Linked DNA regions of Homo sapiens: region 2 is linked to region 1. The links come from fine-mapping of genetic effects on gene expression. A gene starts in region 1. The other region holds a variant in brackets. All regions are shown on one strand. Distances are between the middles of the regions. Region 1 holds the start of EMC3 (ER membrane protein complex subunit 3). Region 2 overlaps EMC3 (ER membrane protein complex subunit 3).

Region 1 (8,000 bases):
AAAAGAAAAATATGAGGGCTGGGTGCAGTGGCTCATGCCTATAATCCCAGCACTTTGGGAGGCCCAAGCAGGAGGATCACTTGAAGCTAAAAATTTGAGACCAGCCTGGGAAACACAGCAAGACCTCATCTCTATAAAAAATAAAAGAATGGCCGGGCGCGGTGGCTCACACCTGTAATCCCAGCACTTTGGGAGGCCAAGGCGGGCAGATCACGAGGTCAGGAGATCGAGACCATCCTGGCTAACATGGTGAAACCCCGTCTCTACTAAAAATACAAAAAATTAGCCAGGCGAGGTGGTGGGCGCCTATAGTCCCAACTACTCAGGAGGCCGAGGCAGGAGAATGGCGTGAACCCGGGAGGCGGAGCTTGCAGTGAGCCGAGATCGTGCCACTGCACTACAGCCTGGGCGACAGCGAGACTCCGTCTCAAAAAATAAATAAATAAATAAATAAATAAAAGAATTGGCCAGGCGTGGTGGCTCACACCTGTAATCCTAGCACTTTGGGAGGCTGAGGCAGGTGGGTGGATCACCTGAGTCAGGAGTTTGAGACTAGCCTGGCCAATATGGTGAAATCCCATCTCTGCTAAAAATACAAAAATTAGCCAGGCATGGTGGCAGGCACCTATAATCCCAGCTACTAGGGAGGCTGAGGCAGGAGATTTGCTTCAACCCAGGGGCCAGAGGTTGCAGTGAACCGAGATTGTGGCACTTCACTATAGCCTAGGCAAAAGAGCGAAACTCTCTCAAAATAACTAACTAACTAACTAACAGAATTAGCCAGGCCTGGTGGTGCTTGCCTGTAGTCCCAGCTACTCCAAAGACTGAGGTGGGGGGATCGCTTGAACCCGGGTGTTTGAGACTGCAATGAACTATGATGCTGTCACCGCACTCCACCTTCGGTGACAGAGCAAGACTTAGTCTCTTAAAAAAAAAAAAAAAAAAAAAAAAAGAGAAAGGCCCGGCACGGTGGCTCACACCTGTAATCCCAGGACTTTGGGAGGCTGAGGTGGATCATAAGGTCAGGAGATCCAGACCATCCTGGCTAACAACGTGAAACCCCATCTCTACTAAAAATACAAAAAATTAGCCGGGCGTGGTGGCAGGCGCCTGTAGTCCCAGCTACTCGGGAGGCTGAGGTAGAAGAATGGCATGAACCCAGGAGGTGGAGCTTGCAGTGAGCTGAGATTGCGCCACTGCCTGCACTCCAGCCTGGGTGACAGAGCAAGACTCTGTCTCAAAAAAAAAAGAGAAAACACTGGGAGTGTATTCAGGGCAATCTGAGTCTATGCTTCCAGGAAAAAAAAAAAAAAAAAGTTAAAAAGGCAAGCAGGACAAAAAAGAAAAAACAAATTTTACTACTTCTCTTAACTGAATGCTCCACTTCTTAGGACACCAAAATTTAGAGTCATTAGACCAGAATACAGTCATTAAAGATAACAATGAAGACAAAGCAGAAGCACATGGAGAAGAAAATGTTGAGAAAAAAGAATACAAATTATATTTATATTTATAAAATGATTACAAATACGTAAAAATAGGTATGCAGGCAGTCAAGGTGTTAAATTTGTGTTTATCTAAAACCAAAAACAGTGTGTTTGGAGTACTTTGATATTTCTCACCACAAAAAGTTATTCATTTTTTTCATTGCTTTATTCATCATCATGAAAGCTTTTAAGATAGTCATCCCAAAATTGGATAACAAAACTAACAAAAATCCCACAAAACAGATTCCAACCAAAGAAAAATCTTTAAAGGCAACCAATCAGCACCTAAGGAACTCAATCATCTGGCTTTTTATCTTTTGAGATGGAGTCTTGCACTGTCGCCCAGGCTGGAGTGCAGTGGCGTGTGCCACCAGGCCAGGCTAATTTTTTTTTTGTATTTTTAGTAGAGACGGGGTTTCGCTACATTGGCCAGGCTGGTCTCAAACTCCTGACCTCAGATGATCCGCCTGCCTCAGCCTCCCAAAGTGCTGGGATTATAGGCGTGAGCCACCGTGCCCGGCCAATCATCTGGCTTTTTGATGGAAGGTATTTCTAGAATTAATAGAGACATAAGATCCAGTACCACTGCTTTGACAGTGGACAGACTGATTTACTCTAGTCAGGTCTACATGAGCAAAGTAAAGTAAAACATGGAATGCCATTATCTTGACAGTGGTGCTGGGTGGAAGGAAGGGCAATTAGGCAGATATAGGGACCTGAGACTTAGGTGGTTATTTTCTTCATCTCATCAGTGGGGACCTGGCTTCTTTGACTGCACCTTGATGTGCTTGTTTACACTGTTAGTATTTCCCCTTGTGGATACTGTAGGCTTATTTTATAGCCAGAGTGAGTAGGGGCAGGCTATCTGGCCAGTCGCCACCTCAGATTATCTTCCCCAGACAGCTAATGTTTATTAGAGCAACTAGGGAAGAGAGAGAAGAGTGACTGGAGGGAGGAGAAAGAAAGACAGTGGGAAGGCAAGCTAGCCAATGTCATTACTTTTAAGTCTGCAATACTGAAAATGCATAGTACATGAACATTACCTTGTGTTCAGATACTGAGGCAGTGTTTTCAATTGCCTGAAAAAACAGGAGAGTCACAAAAATATTATGACACATCAGCGAAACACGTTACACCTTATTCAGCATGCCCTGTTATCTCATCTAAGAGCCAATGTGTCCATATGGCAACCATCAGCTATCATTTCCACTTGAATGAGTTTTGAGATTTTTATTTCAATCTACCTCAGTTATACATCTGTCACTAATTGCCACTCATTTCCTCCTTGATAATCAAAGTTCCAAAGATCCCACCTTAATCCAGGCTTCTGAAATGGTTTTCTCATATCTAATAGCTGACTTTATTACATCAAAGAGAATAATACGGTTCTGACCGCTGCTTTCTTGATTTCCTGAGGAATTACAAGTAGCAGAGAGGAAAAAAATTACTCTTCTACCTACCAGAAAAGAACTTACAAGATGTGAATTCCTGCTTAGTAGCCATGTACCCTGGAGTAAATGACAACCTCATGTATAAGATGGCTAATAAACTTGCACTGTAGTCTGCCTGGGATTGATCTGAATGGCTAAGAAAACATATGAACACATACATAGCCACATACATATACGTAATTTGAAAAACGATATAATACTAGATGTAAATATCATAATAGTACCATTATTTGTAGTTGTAAGTATTAAGCTCCAACTCTGACTGTGGGATGTCAGAGAACTGTGACATCCTATGTGAGGAAAAGGGTGGCAATTATCCATGAGCTCTTTACCTTGCTTGTCCTTTACTTTTTAACTTTACTTGGAAAGCCTGCAACAGTGATGGCAAAACACAATGCTGCAGGATCCAACTTCTCCCGAAGCTCAGAGATTACCTGCAGAAAGTTAATATTAGCTATGGTGTTCTGCTCATTCATAGTGGGTAGGTACAGTCCAGTCTCTCAACCATGACAATCTCCTGAAAGACTGAGGAAGAAAAAATTTTAAACGTTGGACATTTTGAAAAATAGAGTTGTGAGAATAGCTAAATGCAATGTCGTAGAATGTCATATCCAAAATTTCAGAATTCTGTGAGGTACTACACAGAAAGAGTAAATGTAACTTATAGCAGCTTATATAGATCAATGAATCTGTTGAATAGCTCCATTTCCTCTTCTCAATGCTATCCGGATTAGTCAACATTCTCAGTTAGTCAGGACTTTCGGCTTCCAGACACCCGCCTTTAACACGTGCGATACCATTTGGCTTCCCGAGAAGCCCAACAGACGTGAGATGAGGCCGACTGCCTGGACTAGTTCATCGGGAAGGGGGTGAGGGTAAAAGCCTTTCTCATTTCCTCATTTTAACGACGCAGAAAGGTACCTGTGGGGACTATCCCATCTCAGGGCAGATGAGGAAGCCGAGGCTTGGGGCGCGGAGCCCCAGAGAAGAACGCCGACCGCGGCCCGGACTTAAGAGATTAGGTCGCAGGGGAGCGGGGCCTCGAGAGACTACGACCACTGCTCCATTTACTCACCGAGAAGCCGTCCCCGCCTGTAGTTTTCTTTCTTTTTTTTTTTTTTTTTTTGAGACGGAGTCTTCCTCTGTCGCCCAGGCTGGAGTGCAGTGCAGCAATCTCGGCTCACTGCAGGCTCCGCCTCCTGGGTTCACGCCATTCTCCTGCCTCAGCCTCCCGAGTAGCTGCGACTACAGGCGCCTCCACCACGCCTGGCTAATTTTTTTGTATTTTTAGTAGAGACAGGGTTTCACCTGTTAGCCAGGATGGTCTCGATCCCCTGACCTCGTGATCCCCCCACCTTGGCCTCCCAAAGTGCTGGGATTCCAGGAGTGAGCCACCGAGCCTGGGCCACCGCCGATAGTTTTCCACTTTCCCGCCAGGCCCGACGCCGCTCTGACGCCACTGAGGTGCGCCACGACGTGACGTCAACGTTCGCGCCGGAAGTGGAAGACCAGGCAGCCCAGCTGAAGGCAGTAAGCTCGGCTCACAGTCGCAGGAGAGTTCTGGGGTACACGGGCAAAGGGGCTTGAGAAGGCCCGGAGGCGAAGCCGAAGAGAAGCAACTGTGCCCCGGAGAAGAGAAGCTCGCCCATTCCAGACTGGGAACCAGCTTTCAGTGAAGATGGCAGGGCCAGAACTGTTGCTCGACTCCAACATCCGCCTCTGGGTGGTCCTACCCATCGTTATCATCACTTTCTTCGTAGGCATGATCCGCCACTACGTGTCCATCCTGCTGCAGAGCGACAAGAAGCTCACCCAGGAACAAGTATCTGACAGGTCAGCGCCCTCCCTTCTCCAGCCTACCTCACACCGCCGTGACCTTGGGCAAAAAAGTGCAGGAGTTGTGTCAATTTGCCTAGGTTCACGTCGCGCCCCCTCTGACAGGGTGACCTTACCCGTTACCTCTGTGTTTCACTTTTGTCCTCTGTGAAATGGGGATGATAACAGTACCTGCTTCATAGACAGGTAGGAATCAAATTAGGTGATGTCTGTAAGTCCCTTAGCACAGGATCTAGGACGTATTGAGTGTTGAAAAAAACAGTACTGTTAATCCTTTAGGTTAGTCGCCGACCCTCGGTGGGTTTACCTATGAACTATTCCATCCCACCCTTCCGTTGAGAAGAGTGCCAGGTGCGTTACAGCGTTTAGTCTTTGTAACATCCAGTCAAGTGAGTGTGATAATCTGCATTCTACCAAATTACTGTTCCAGGCGTCGGGCCTGGTGGGACTGTCAGCTGAGATGCCAAGTACCAAAGCGCTTTGCAGTCTGTAAAACTGCCATTAGAGATGTAAGGAATTGTAATTATTTCCCCCCACTAGAGTGGAGGCAACTTCCTCACATATTTCATTGCAGTATTTATTTATTTATCTATTTATTTGCTTATTTTTGAGACGGAGTTTCGCTCTCGTTGCCCAGGCTGGAGTGCGGTGGCGTCATCTCAGCTCACTGCAGTCTACGCCTCCCGGGTTCAAGCGATTCTCTTGCCTCAGCCCCCCGAGTAGCTGGGATTACAGGCCCGCACCACCACACCTGACTAATTTTTGTATTTTTAGTAGAGACAGGGTTTCACCATCTTGGCCAGGCTGTTCTCGAACTCGACCTCAGGTGATCCACCTGCCTTGGCCTCCCAAAGTGCTGGGATTACAGGTGTGAGCCATGGCAACCAGCCCCTCGTTGCAATATTTATATACAGATAAAGGAATTTGAGATGATTATAGGTGGTTATCTAGACATGTAGCCCCTCATATTAAAGTAATAGTTTTCTCCCAGCAACTTGGGATGCTGAGGCAGGAGGATTGTGGGAGACCAGCCTGGGCAACATAACGAGACCTTGTCTCTTAGAAAAACAAGCAATTTTCAGTCAGTTCTGATTACTTTCAGAAATCATCTCAGGTAAGTGCTACTATATCTTTAGCACCTCTCTCTCACATTAATTTCTCGTTTTAATAAAGAGAGTAAGCCTCAGGCTAAGAACTTTTCACAGGTAACAGTGTCTAGTTAAAATTTAATAATGTTGTTTTGTTTCTACTGTACTTAAGTTACTTTCTTTTTTGTGACAATACTGGATTTCCATTTGCTGGTAATTTAAAGATTCCTTTAAAATCATATAGATGGGAAAAAAGTTGATATATAAAAAGTATTAAATATGTAATGATACAAGCGTTGGACAAAAATTCTAACATGGCATGAGAGTGACTGAAGTTTAGGAAGCACTACTGTAACATTTTCAGTTAGTTCTTCCCAATTATGCCAAGAAGAATAATAACCATTTACTCTATATCAGGTACTATGTGAAGTACTTACATTCATTAACTTATTTAAAACTTCAAAGCAACTCTATGAGGTACATATTGTCTCATTTTATAGAAACAGAGGCTTTAACAAGTTCCATCCCACCCGTTCGTTGAGAAGAGTGCCAGGTGCGTTACAGCGTCACACAGGGTGACATTTAGGACTTCACACCAAGCCTTCTGGGTATTGGGCTTTTTCCACTATACTACAGCGATCACTTTATCTTTCTGTAGCATTAGTTTCAGAACTGACCAGAGCCAGCACCCCACCCTGGAGCGAACCTTAAGAAGTCAGCTTACTGGCCGGGCATGGTGGCTCATGCCTGTACTCCCAGCACTTTGGGAGGCCGAGGCGGACGGATCACGAGGTCAGGAGATCGAGACCATCCTGGCTAACATGGTGAAACCCCGTCTCTACTAAAAATACAAAAAATTAGCTGAGCGTGGTATGCTGGGCGCCTGTAGTCCCAGCTACTCGGGAGGCTGAGGCAGTGGAATTGCTTGAACCCAGGAGGCGGAGCTTGCAGTGAGCCAAGATCGCGCCACTGCACTTCAACCTGGGTGACAGAGCAAGACTCTGTCTCAAAAAAACAGAAAAGAAGTCAACTTACTGGCCGGGTGTGGTGGCTTACGCCTGTAATCCCAACACTTTGAGAGGCCGAGGCAGGCAGATCATGAGGTCAAGAGATTGAGACCATCCTGGCCAACATGGTGAAACCCCATCTCTACTAAAAATACAAAAATTAGCTGGGCGTGATGGCACGTGCCTGTAGTCCCAGCTACTCGGGAGGCTGAGGCAGGAGAATCGCTTGAATCCGGGAGGCAGAGGTTGCGGTGAGCCGAGATCATGCCACTGCACTCCAGCCTGGCGACAGAGCGAGACTCCATCTCATTTAAAAAAAAAAAAAAAAGTGTATTTACCACAGAAAGAAGGGCTGTAGAAAAGTGCGAAGTGGGGAAAGCTCAGACATTTAGCATTTTCTGGCACCTGTAAAATTTCTTATTTTAGCCTTACATTAGCACTGAAGCAGATACTCCTTAACCCATTTTTACAATTCCAGGGAGCCTGGAAAAGTTAAGTAGTCTTCCCAAAGTAGGGAAATATTGTGCCTGTACTTGAACTCAGATCAGTCTCACTCCCAGGTTAAACCCTCTTCAACCATGATTCCTGCTGTCGTAGATTCTCTGCCATGATTTTCTGCCCATGGTTCACTATTAGAGCAATGGTTCTGAATTATATCAGATCCAAAGCTCTCTTTTGTAACCACAAAATGAAATTCACAGTTAGTGTAGTCTGTTTACAAGAACCTTTTTTTTTTTGGAGACCAGAGTCTCACTCTTGCCCAGGCTGGAGTGCAGTGGCGCAATCTTGGCTCACTGCAACCTCTGCCTCCCCAGCTGAAGTGATTCTCCTGCCTCAACCTCTCGAGTGGCTGCGATTAGCGGCATGCGCCAGCATGCCTGGCTAATTTTTGTATTTTAGTAGAGACAGGGTGTGAGCCATTGCACCCAGCCAAGAACGCTTCCTTAAGAAGGAATGTAACAGCCGGACACAGTAGCACATGCTTGTAATCCCAGCACTTAGGGAGGCTGAGGTGGGCAGATCTCTTAAAGTCAGGGGTTCAAGACCAGCCTGGCCAACATGGTGAAACCCCATCTCTGCTAAAAATACAAAAATTAACCAGACACGGTGGCATGTGCCTGTAATCCCAGC
Region 2 (9,588 bases), 25 kb after region 1:
AGTGGGGAAAGAATAGTCTCCATTCAACGAATGGTGCTGGGAAAAGGATATCTACATGCAAAAGAATGAGGCTGGGCACCTATTTCACACCATGCACAAAAGTTAAGTCCAAATGGTTCAACAGGCATGTTAGTGCAGAAGAAAAAAAAAAATTAGGTTCAAATTAGCCAAATGTGGTGGTGCATGCCTATAGATGGGAGGACCACTTGAGCTGAGGAGTTTGAGGCTGCAATGAGCTGTGATTGTGCCACTGCACACCAGCTTGGGTGACAGAGCGAGACCCTGTCTTGAAAAAAGAAATCAAATGGGTCAAAGTCCCAAATCTTTAATATTGCATGATATTACTCATATAAAATATTTGGAATAGGAAAATTCACAGAGACAAGAAAGTAGGTTAGAGTTTACTGAGGATGGGATGGGGGGCAGTGGGGAGTAATTGCTTACTGTGCACATTTTCTGTTTAAGGGGACATAAAACTTTGGAAATGATAGTAGACATGGGTACACATTGTGAATGTCATTAATGCCACTGAATTTTACATCTGAAATGGTTAAAAGTGGTGTATGTTATGTTACATATATTTTACCACAATAAAAAAATAAAAATTTGGCTGGGCGCAGTGGCTTACACCTTAATCCCAGCACTTTGGGAGGCTGAGACAGGCAGATCATTTGAGGTCAGGAGCTTGAGACCAGCCTGGCCAACATGGTGAAATGCCATCTCCACTAAAAATACAAAAATTAGCTGGGCATAGTGGTGCCTGCCTGTAATCCCAGCTACTCAGGAGGCTGAGGCATGAGAATTGCTTGAACCTGGGAGGCAGAGGTTGCAGTGAGCCGAGATCCACCATTGCAGATGCAGAGGTTGCAGTGAGCCAAGATGGCGCCACTGCACTCCACCCTGGGTGACAGAGTGAGATCACTCTGTCTCAAAAAAATAAACAACTAAAAAACAGTGAGAGGGCTGGGCATGGTGGCTCACGCCTGTAATCCCAGCACTTTGGGAGGCTGAGGTGGGTGGATCACAAGGTCAGAAGTTCAAGATCAGCTTGGTCAACATGGTGAAACCCCATCTCTACTAAAAATACAAAAATTAGCCGGGCGTGGTGGCGGGCGCCTGTAGTCCCAGCTGCTCAGGAGGCTGAGGCAGGAGAATTGCCTAAACCTGGGAGGCGGAGGTTGCAGTGAGCGGAGATTGCGCCACTGCACTCCAGCCTGGGTGCCAGAGCGAGACTCCATCTCAAAAAAAAAAAAAAACAGATACCACTTCATGCCCACTCAGATGGTTATAATTAATAAAAAAAAAGATCAACAATAACAAGTGTCGGTAAGGATGTGGAGAAATTGGAACCCTATTGTTGATGATGGTACAGCCACTTTGGAAAACAGTTTTTCTGCCTTTCCTCAAACAGTTAAAACATAGTTACTATATGATCCAGTAATTTCACTCTTAAGTAAATACTCAAGAGAACTGAAAATGTATGTCCACACAGAAACTTATGTGAGAATGTGTTCAGAGCATGATTCATAATAATCAAAAAGTAGACATAACCCAAATGTCCATCATCTAATGAATGAATAAACAATGGAATATTTTGGAATATAATGTACATTGTATGTACAGTAGAATATATACAATGGAGTGTTATTCAGCTATAAATAAGAGTGGAATACTGAATCATGTTAAACAGGGAAGAACCTTGAAAACATGCTAAGTGAAAGAAAATAACAAAAGGCCACATATGCCCAGAATAAGTGAAAAAAAGATACGGAAGATAACGTAGTAGTTGCCAGAGGTTGTGGGAGGTGAATAATGGGAGCTGTCTACTGTTTGGTATGTGGTTTCTTTTTGTTATGATAAAAGTGTTCTGCAATTAGATAGTGGTGGTGGTTGCACATATGAATATACTAAAAATCACTAAATTATACACATTAAAGGGGTAAATTGTATGACATGTAAATTATATCTGAAAAACTCACTCATGAGCTAACATTTGTATTTCACATTAAATAAGCTTGTTCTATCTATCTATCTATCTATCTATCTATCTATCTATCTATCTATCGAGGGTCTCACTGTGTCACCCAGGCTGGAGTGCAGTGGTACAATCCTTGCTCACTGCAGCCTCGAACTCCTGGACTTAAGCATTCCTCCCACCTCAGCCTCAGTACTGGTACACGAGAAGCCAGTACTACAGGCACACACCACCACACCCAACTAATTTTTTTTTAAATTTGTATAGAGATGGGATCTCGCTGTGTTGCCCAGGCTGGTCTTGAACTCCCATCCTCAAGTGATCCTCCTGCCTTGGCCTCCCAAAGTGCTAGGATTACAGGTGTGAGCTACCACATCTCGCAAGCTTTTTTTTTTTTTTTTTAATTTATTTTTAAAGACGAGGTATTACTATCTCTAGGCTCATCTAAAGATAGGTTGTCCAGGGCAGTCCCAAACTCCTGGGCTCAAGCTATCCTTAGCCTCAGCCTCCAGAGTAGCTGGGACTGTAGATGCATGCCACTGCACCCAACTCATAAAGCATTTTTTAGACACTCACTAATTTAAGGCAAAGTAGTCAGATTAATAGAATATTTGAGAAATGTAATTTCTTGGAAAATTCTGCAAATTTATTTCTGCTCAACATATTACTAGTTTACATCTAAATGATTATATGCCAAAAACAGTTTTTTAGTTCACATCATCAAAGTCTTTATTCCAGTGATTAAAAATTACTGGACTCCCACAAACTGTAATGAAGTGCCATTGTGTGTCTGGACATAAGGTTGGAGGAAGTGTTCTTAGGCCCACTGAAGATACCCTGGGCCATTTATGTCAAAGCATTGTGGACCATGCACCATTTAAACCAGATGGCAAGTCCCTTGATTAAAGAGCTGAGAATCTGCACTAATTTGTCTGTTGTACATCTCTCAAGAGTACTGTGGGGCACAAAGGTGCTTAGTGAGTGTGAGCTGATAGACGGGTTAAGCGCTGGGGACTTTGCAGTCAGACCACAATTTAAATCTCAGCTCCATTAGTTCCTAGTGCCAGTGGCCTTGAACAAATTATTTGACCTCTTAGTCTTAGTCTCCTTATCTATAAATTGAGGGGTGGCAGGAAGAGGGGGAGGAGAGGATTGGGGTAGCAGCATTTCCCTTGTAGGATTGAATGAGCTTATACATGCAGATAGCTCACTCCAGCTTTTGGCCCAGAGTAAGTGGTCACTAAAGGTTAGCCACAGCTGTCAGTAACAATTCCCTCTCTTCCTGCCTGGGTGTTCTCTTCCATTACAGACAGAGTGGGAAGCTTTGGAGCTGACGGATCACCAGTGGGCACTAGATGATGTCGAAGAAGAGCTCATGGCCAAAGACCTCCACTTCGAAGGCATGTTCAAAAAGGAATTACAGACCTCTATTTTTTGAAGACCGAGCAGGGATTAGCTGTGTCAGGAACTTGGAGTTGCACTTAACCTTGTAACTTTGTTTGGAGCTGGCACCTCTTGAAATAAAAAGGAGGATGCACGAGCTGGCAGGCATGCAGCAAGGCTTGTTCTTGTCTGGGCTGGGTTCCCCTTTATGTTTGAAACTAGAGGAAATAGGAGTATGCTGGGCAACTTGTTATTTTTAAAATGTTGTAAATGTTCCTTCTGGTGACTCTAGTAATGAAAGTC[A/G]GAGAAAGGGGGAAACCTCAGGCTACTGATAATATATAAAATCTTGGCCAGGCGCAGTGGCTCACGCCTGTAATCCCAGGATTTTGGGAGGCTGAGGCGGGTGGGTCACGAGATCAGGAGTTCAAGATCAGCCTGGCCAAGATGGTGAAACCCCATCTCTACTAAAAATACAAAAAAAAATTAGCCGGGCGTGGTGGTGGGCACCTGTAATCCCAGCTACTTGGGAGGCTGAGGCAGAGAACTGCTTAAACCTAGGAGGCGGAGGATGCAGTGAGCTGACATCGTGCCACTGCGCTCCAGCCTGGGCGACAGAGCAAAACTCCATCTGAAAAAAAAAAAAAAATATATATATATATATATATATATCTATCTTAGCAGAAGCCCAGTCTTCGAAGGAAGCATTGTTAATTATAGCTAATGATTATGTGCAGTCAGCCTGACATCTAGCCACAGTAAACTCCTGTTTTCTTGGGATCCAAACACCCTGTGTTTTACCATTAGTTTTGTTAGTATTGTTAACTTTCTTTACACAAGTAAACCATTTCCACTACCAAAGGTTTAGAAACTATGGATGAACAAAATGAATCTCCCTGTTCATTTTGAGCCTACATAGACATAGAGACCAAATATGTCAAAACCTTATTCAAATAAACTCTCTTCAGAGTGAATACCCAGGGTCAGGACAGACTCAGCAAACCTTCTATATCACTTAATTCTGCCCAGTGAAAATCAGTGACCCTGAGGCACTGCCAGATTCTAAAGTGCCTTTGGGATCATCAGAGACTGTCTATAAATAATGCAAAATCTTGATCTGGATGTCAGTGTATCAAATCTTATCAAATCCATTGACAAATCAGTGGTGCTATACTGGAAATGGCTACTCCTTTGGATGAAGGACCTCATTTCCCAGTTGCTTGGAACAAAAGAGAATTTACATATTGCTGTAAGAAGGGAGAGACGGCAGTTGTTGGTAGACACACAGATAAGGGTGCCCAAGAATAATTCTGTCTGGATTAAAGGTCCCAGGGAAGTGACGGTGCCATTTCTGTACCAAGAGGTGAATATAATTTGCATGTTGAGTGCAGTAATTAAGAACAAACGACTCGACTCCACAAATTAAACCGTCCTGTTTTCTCTTCTTTGCCTGTGAAAGTGTTGCCTCTGTAAGTCACTAACAACCTTCTGCCAGCAGTTGACTGTCTATCTTGGATCAGTGCGGGGAGTCTAAGACGAAAGAGATGTGAACCTTGCCCTCAACTCACAAGAGAGAGACACCTAAGAGCTTTTTAAAATTTTTTATTATTTTTTTAGAGACGATACCTTGCTATGTTGCCCAGACTGGTCTTGAACTTGTGAGCTCAAGCCATCCTCCTGCCTCACCCTCCCAAAGTGCTGGGATTACAGGCATGAGCCACTGTGCCTGGCCAAAAGAGACCTTTTTTTGAGGTCACCGAATCTGAGAATCTGGAATCTCTGACCCTGGCCTCCAGAGTAACATATGTGGACATAGATACAGACATGTCCCTCTAAAACTTATTCATAATGACCCGCAGACCCAAGTTAAGAAACCCTGACCTTTAACGATAGTTAAAATGGCTGCTTATACCAGATAGAAAAGGAACAAGTGTTCACAGGAGAGCTAACCTTTGACCTGGGTCTTGAAAGACTTCCTCTGTGTAGAAGGGCATTCCAAGCAGAGAAAACAGAATCAGCAAAAGCCCATGGATTAAACTGTCTGCAATTCATTGCACCCCAAGGAAGTGGGGAGTGGTCCAGTATGCCCTGGAAAGGTCCAGGTTGGGTAGCATGCAAATGGTAATTGGTGATTGAGTGGTAGCCGCCTCGTTCCTCTGCATCGGGAGCATTTGAGTCTGCCTCTTCACCCACACAAGGTTTGGCCTTTTTCCCTTGTAGCAAAGATGGGTGGTTAAAATGTGTGTGACCAGCCTGGCCAACATGGTGAGACCCCGTCTCTACTAAATATACAAAAATTAGCCAGGCATGGTGGTGTGCACCTGTAATCCCAGTTACTCGGGAGGCTGAGGCAGGAGAACCACTTGAACCTGGGAGGCAGAGGTTGCAGTGAGCCGAGATCGTGCCACTGCACTCCAGCCTGGGCAACAAGAGTGAAACTCCATCTCAAAGAATAAAAAAATGTGTGTGAGACTTTCCTGTCCCATTGTACTGGTAGTAAATGCACAGACCTGTCCTTGGCATCAGCGAGTCAAAAAGAAAAGCCAAGGTTGTTTTAGTAGGCTCTTTCCAGAACAGCGCACAGGCTTAGGGAGCAGTGCTTATTGTGTGTGTTTCTTGGAGTTCAATTTGGGCCAGGCTATAAATGAGAATTGCATCTCTTCCATCCACCTTGACTTATCACCTGATACTACTTAGGACACCGCAAATGTCTACTTGCTGATCATGGAATAGAACAGGGGTGTCCAATCCTTTGGCCTCCCTGGGCCACACTGGAATAAGAATTGTCTTGGGCCACACATAAAATACACTAACACTGACGATAGCTGATAAGCTACAAAACAAACAAAAAACAATGTTTTAAGAAAGTTTATGAATTTGTGTTGGGCCCCATACCAAGCTGTCCTGGGCGGCATGCAGCCTACAGGCCAGACAAGCTTGGTATAGAAAGTACCGTACAAGGAAAGCTAAATATTGACAGTCAACTGCACAACACAACTCAGAAAAATACAATTTAGATTTGAGGTGAGTAGGTAAACCCGTGCTTAGGGACAAAAGTCAGCTCGATTCCTCTGTTTGGTCTGTAAGGTGTGTGATGGGTATGTGTGTATGTGAAAGAGGGTTACTAACTGGATTAGGAATATTGCAGTTGCAGGTGACAAGCTGAACTCAAGCAATTAAAAAGGAATGGAAATTGACTCAATAACTAAAATGTCTGGTGGTTGGCTTCAGGCACAGCTGGGTCCAGGGCCTCTCATGATATCATCAGGACTCAGTTGCTTTCTCAAGTCTGCTTCTTAGACAGTTAGTTTTCTTATAGAGGCACGAGATTAGTAATCCTAGTGAAAAGAAAGCACCCCTTTTTAAAAAATCTAGGAAAAGTTAGGGTTGCATCTTAACTCATCTGCCTTAAGTCAACTGCAAATTCCAGGAACTGCTTAGCTTCTCATAAACTATAAGAACTGAAGGTATAATAAGAGTGATTCCCCAAAGGAAAACTGGGATGCTGTTGCCTGAAGAAGTGGCATGGGTACCAGACAAAAAATATCTTATCTTACCTTTAATCATCCAAACCATCTGGAATGTTCCCAACAGGAGGTGCTGTCCCTGTCCTTGGAAGTAATTGCGGTCTGCAAACATTTGCAGGATTTCTACAGTGTGCTCAGGGCCATGCTAGATATTTTCAGATCTTTCTGTTCATTCAACCAATAGTGAATTGAGTGTTGCCAGGCACTGCATATGAACAAGACACAGTCACAGACCTTAAAAACTCAGACTGCTAGACCAACCTGGCTAACACGGTGAAACCCTCTCTCCACTAAAAAATACAAAAAAATTAGCCGGGCATGGTGGCGGGTGCCTGTAGGCCCAGCTACTTTGGAGGCTGAGGCAGGAGAATGGCGTGAACCCAGGAGGTGGAGCTTGCAGTGAGCCGAGATTGCGCCACTGCACTCCAGCCCGGGCGATAGAGTGAGACTCCATCTCAAAAAAAAAACAAAAACCAAAAAACCTCAGACTACTATAGTACATGCTGTGACAGGGACGATCCTAGGGAGGCCATGGGAACATCCTGCAGGTCATCCAGTCAACCCGAATGCTCAGGGAAGGCTTCCCAGCAGAAACATCTCAACTAAGATGTGAAAGATCATGAGGAACTTGCCAGAAAAAAATATACAGACTGTTCTAAACAGAGGTAACGGTGTGCACAAAGTCTCAGAAGCAAAGATGTTGGTGTTTTCATGGAACTGAAACAAGACCTGCATGACCCTGCAGTGTAGAGTATGAAAGGACTGATAAACATTTGGATTGTACACTTAAAACGGGTGAATGGGGTGGGGTGCGAATTATAGCTCACTAAAACTGCTTCAGAAGACAAGATGAGGAGGCAGCACTAGGGCCAGATGGCAGAGGAGCTTATAAGTCATCCCTCAGAGGCGGAACTTCATCCTGATGATGGCAGCAGGAAGCCTTTGTAGGGACTGGTGTGAAGGGATTTGCTGCTGGGCAAGGAATGGAATGGAGGGGCAGAAGTGGGTATGGAGAGCACTGGAGTGAGAGTGAGATGGTAATGCGGTCAGAGGAGAAGGCGCAGCATTGAAGTCATGTCCATGATTAGCTCCTGCTTTCTCACACTCACTGTGTTGCTTTGCAGAAGACAGTTTCCCTCTTTGGGCCTCAGTCTCCCCACCAGTCACAAGGCTACTTTGGAAAAGTCTGGCAGGTCCTCAAAAGTTTTAATGTAAAATTTCCATATGACTCAGCAGTTCCACTCCTAAATAGATATATACCCAAGAGAAGTGAAAACATACTGGCCGGGCATAATGGCTCATGCCGGTAATCCCAGCACTTTGGGAGGCCGAGGCAGGCGGATCACGAGGTCAGGAGTTCGAGACCAGCCTGACCAACATGGTGAAACCCCGTCTCTACTAAAAATACAAAAATTAGCTGGGCGTGATGGCGCGCCACTGTAATCCCAGCTACTCGGGAGGCTGAGGCAGGAGAATCGCTTGAACCTGGGAGGTGGAGGTTGCAGTGAGCCAGGATCATGCCATTGCACTCCAGTCTAGGCAACAGGGTGAGACTCCATCTCAAAAAAAAAAGAAAAGAAAACATATGTCCAGATCAGGTGCGTTGGCTCATGCCTGTAATTCCAGCACTTTAGGAGACCAAGGCAGGTGGATCGAGCCTCCTGTAGTCCCAGCTACTCAGGAGGCTGAGGCAGGAGAATTGCTTGAACATGAGAGCCAGAGGTTGCAGTGAGCTGAGATCGCACTACTGCACTCCAGCCTGGGCTACCGACTGGGCCACAAAGCGAGACTCTGTCTCAAAAAAAAAAAAAAAAAAAGAAAGAAGAAAAAGAAAACATGTCTACACAATTATGTATACATGAATATTCATAGTAGCCACAAGGTGGGAAACAACCCAAATGTCTATCAGCTAACAGATGGATAAATGAAATATGGTATAGCCATACAATGGCGTATTATTCAGCAGTAAAAAGAATAAAGTACTGACCAGGTGCAGTGGCTCACGCCCGTAATCCTTGCACTTTAGGAGGCTGAGGTGGGAGGATTGCTTGAGGCCAGGAGTTCAAGACTGGCCCGGCAACATAGCAAGACCCTGTCTCTACAAAAAATAAAGTTATCTGGGCATGGTGGCGTATGCCTGTAGTCCCAGCTACTCAGGAGCCTGAGGCAGGTGGGTGGTTGCTTGAGCCCAGAAGTTGAAGATTACAGTGAGCCATGACTGTGCCACTGCACTCCAGCCTGGGCAACAGATTGAGACCCTGTCTCTAAAACAGTAAAATAGGTTAGGCACAATGTCTCATGCCTGCATTCCAAGTACTTTGGGAGGGTGAGGCGGGAGGATCACTTGAGCCTGGGAGTTGGAGACCAGTTTAGGCAACATAGTGAGGCCTCACAAGAAAATGAAAAAAAAAATCAGCCAGGCATGGTGGCACATGCCTGTAGTCCCAGCTACCGAGGAGGATGAGGTGGAAGGATTGCTTGAGCCCAGGAGGTCAAGGCTGCAGTGAGCCATCATTGCACCACTGCACTCCAGCCTGGAAGACAGAGCGAGACCCTGTCTCAAAACGATAAATAAATAATAATAAAGTAATTATCACTATTTTACCAGAATTTTTTTTTTTTTTTGAGACAGAATCTTGCTCTGTCACCCAGGCTGGCGTGCAGTGGCACGATCTTGGCTCACTGCAACCTCTGCCTCCCGGGTTC

The links. PIP is the estimated chance that this variant, and not a neighbour inherited with it, causes the effect.
Region 2: its variant is fine-mapped to the expression of EMC3 in whole blood (TOPMed, PIP above 0.99).

Annotation. Positions count from the first base shown.
Region 1 is chr3:9,983,278-9,991,277 of GRCh38, reverse strand. EMC3 (ER membrane protein complex subunit 3) reads left to right here and starts at 4,437. Exons shown (of 8, transcript NM_001394674.1): 1 at 4,437-4,771. The coding sequence starts at 4,617. It overlaps EMC3-AS1 (EMC3 antisense RNA 1), which reads right to left and starts at 4,385. Exons shown (of 3, transcript NR_103821.1): 1 at 4,014-4,385; 2 at 2,531-2,566. RefSeq lists enhancers at 3,868-4,087, 4,348-4,507, 3,972-4,619.
Region 2 is chr3:9,957,894-9,967,481 of GRCh38, reverse strand. EMC3 (ER membrane protein complex subunit 3) reads left to right here. Exons shown (of 8, transcript NM_001394674.1): 8 at 3,285-4,800. The coding sequence ends at 3,413. Among named protein-coding and RNA genes, the nearest start is that of PRRT3, 10 kb to the right of the region's middle. The variant A/G (reference allele first, on the strand shown) is at 3,662.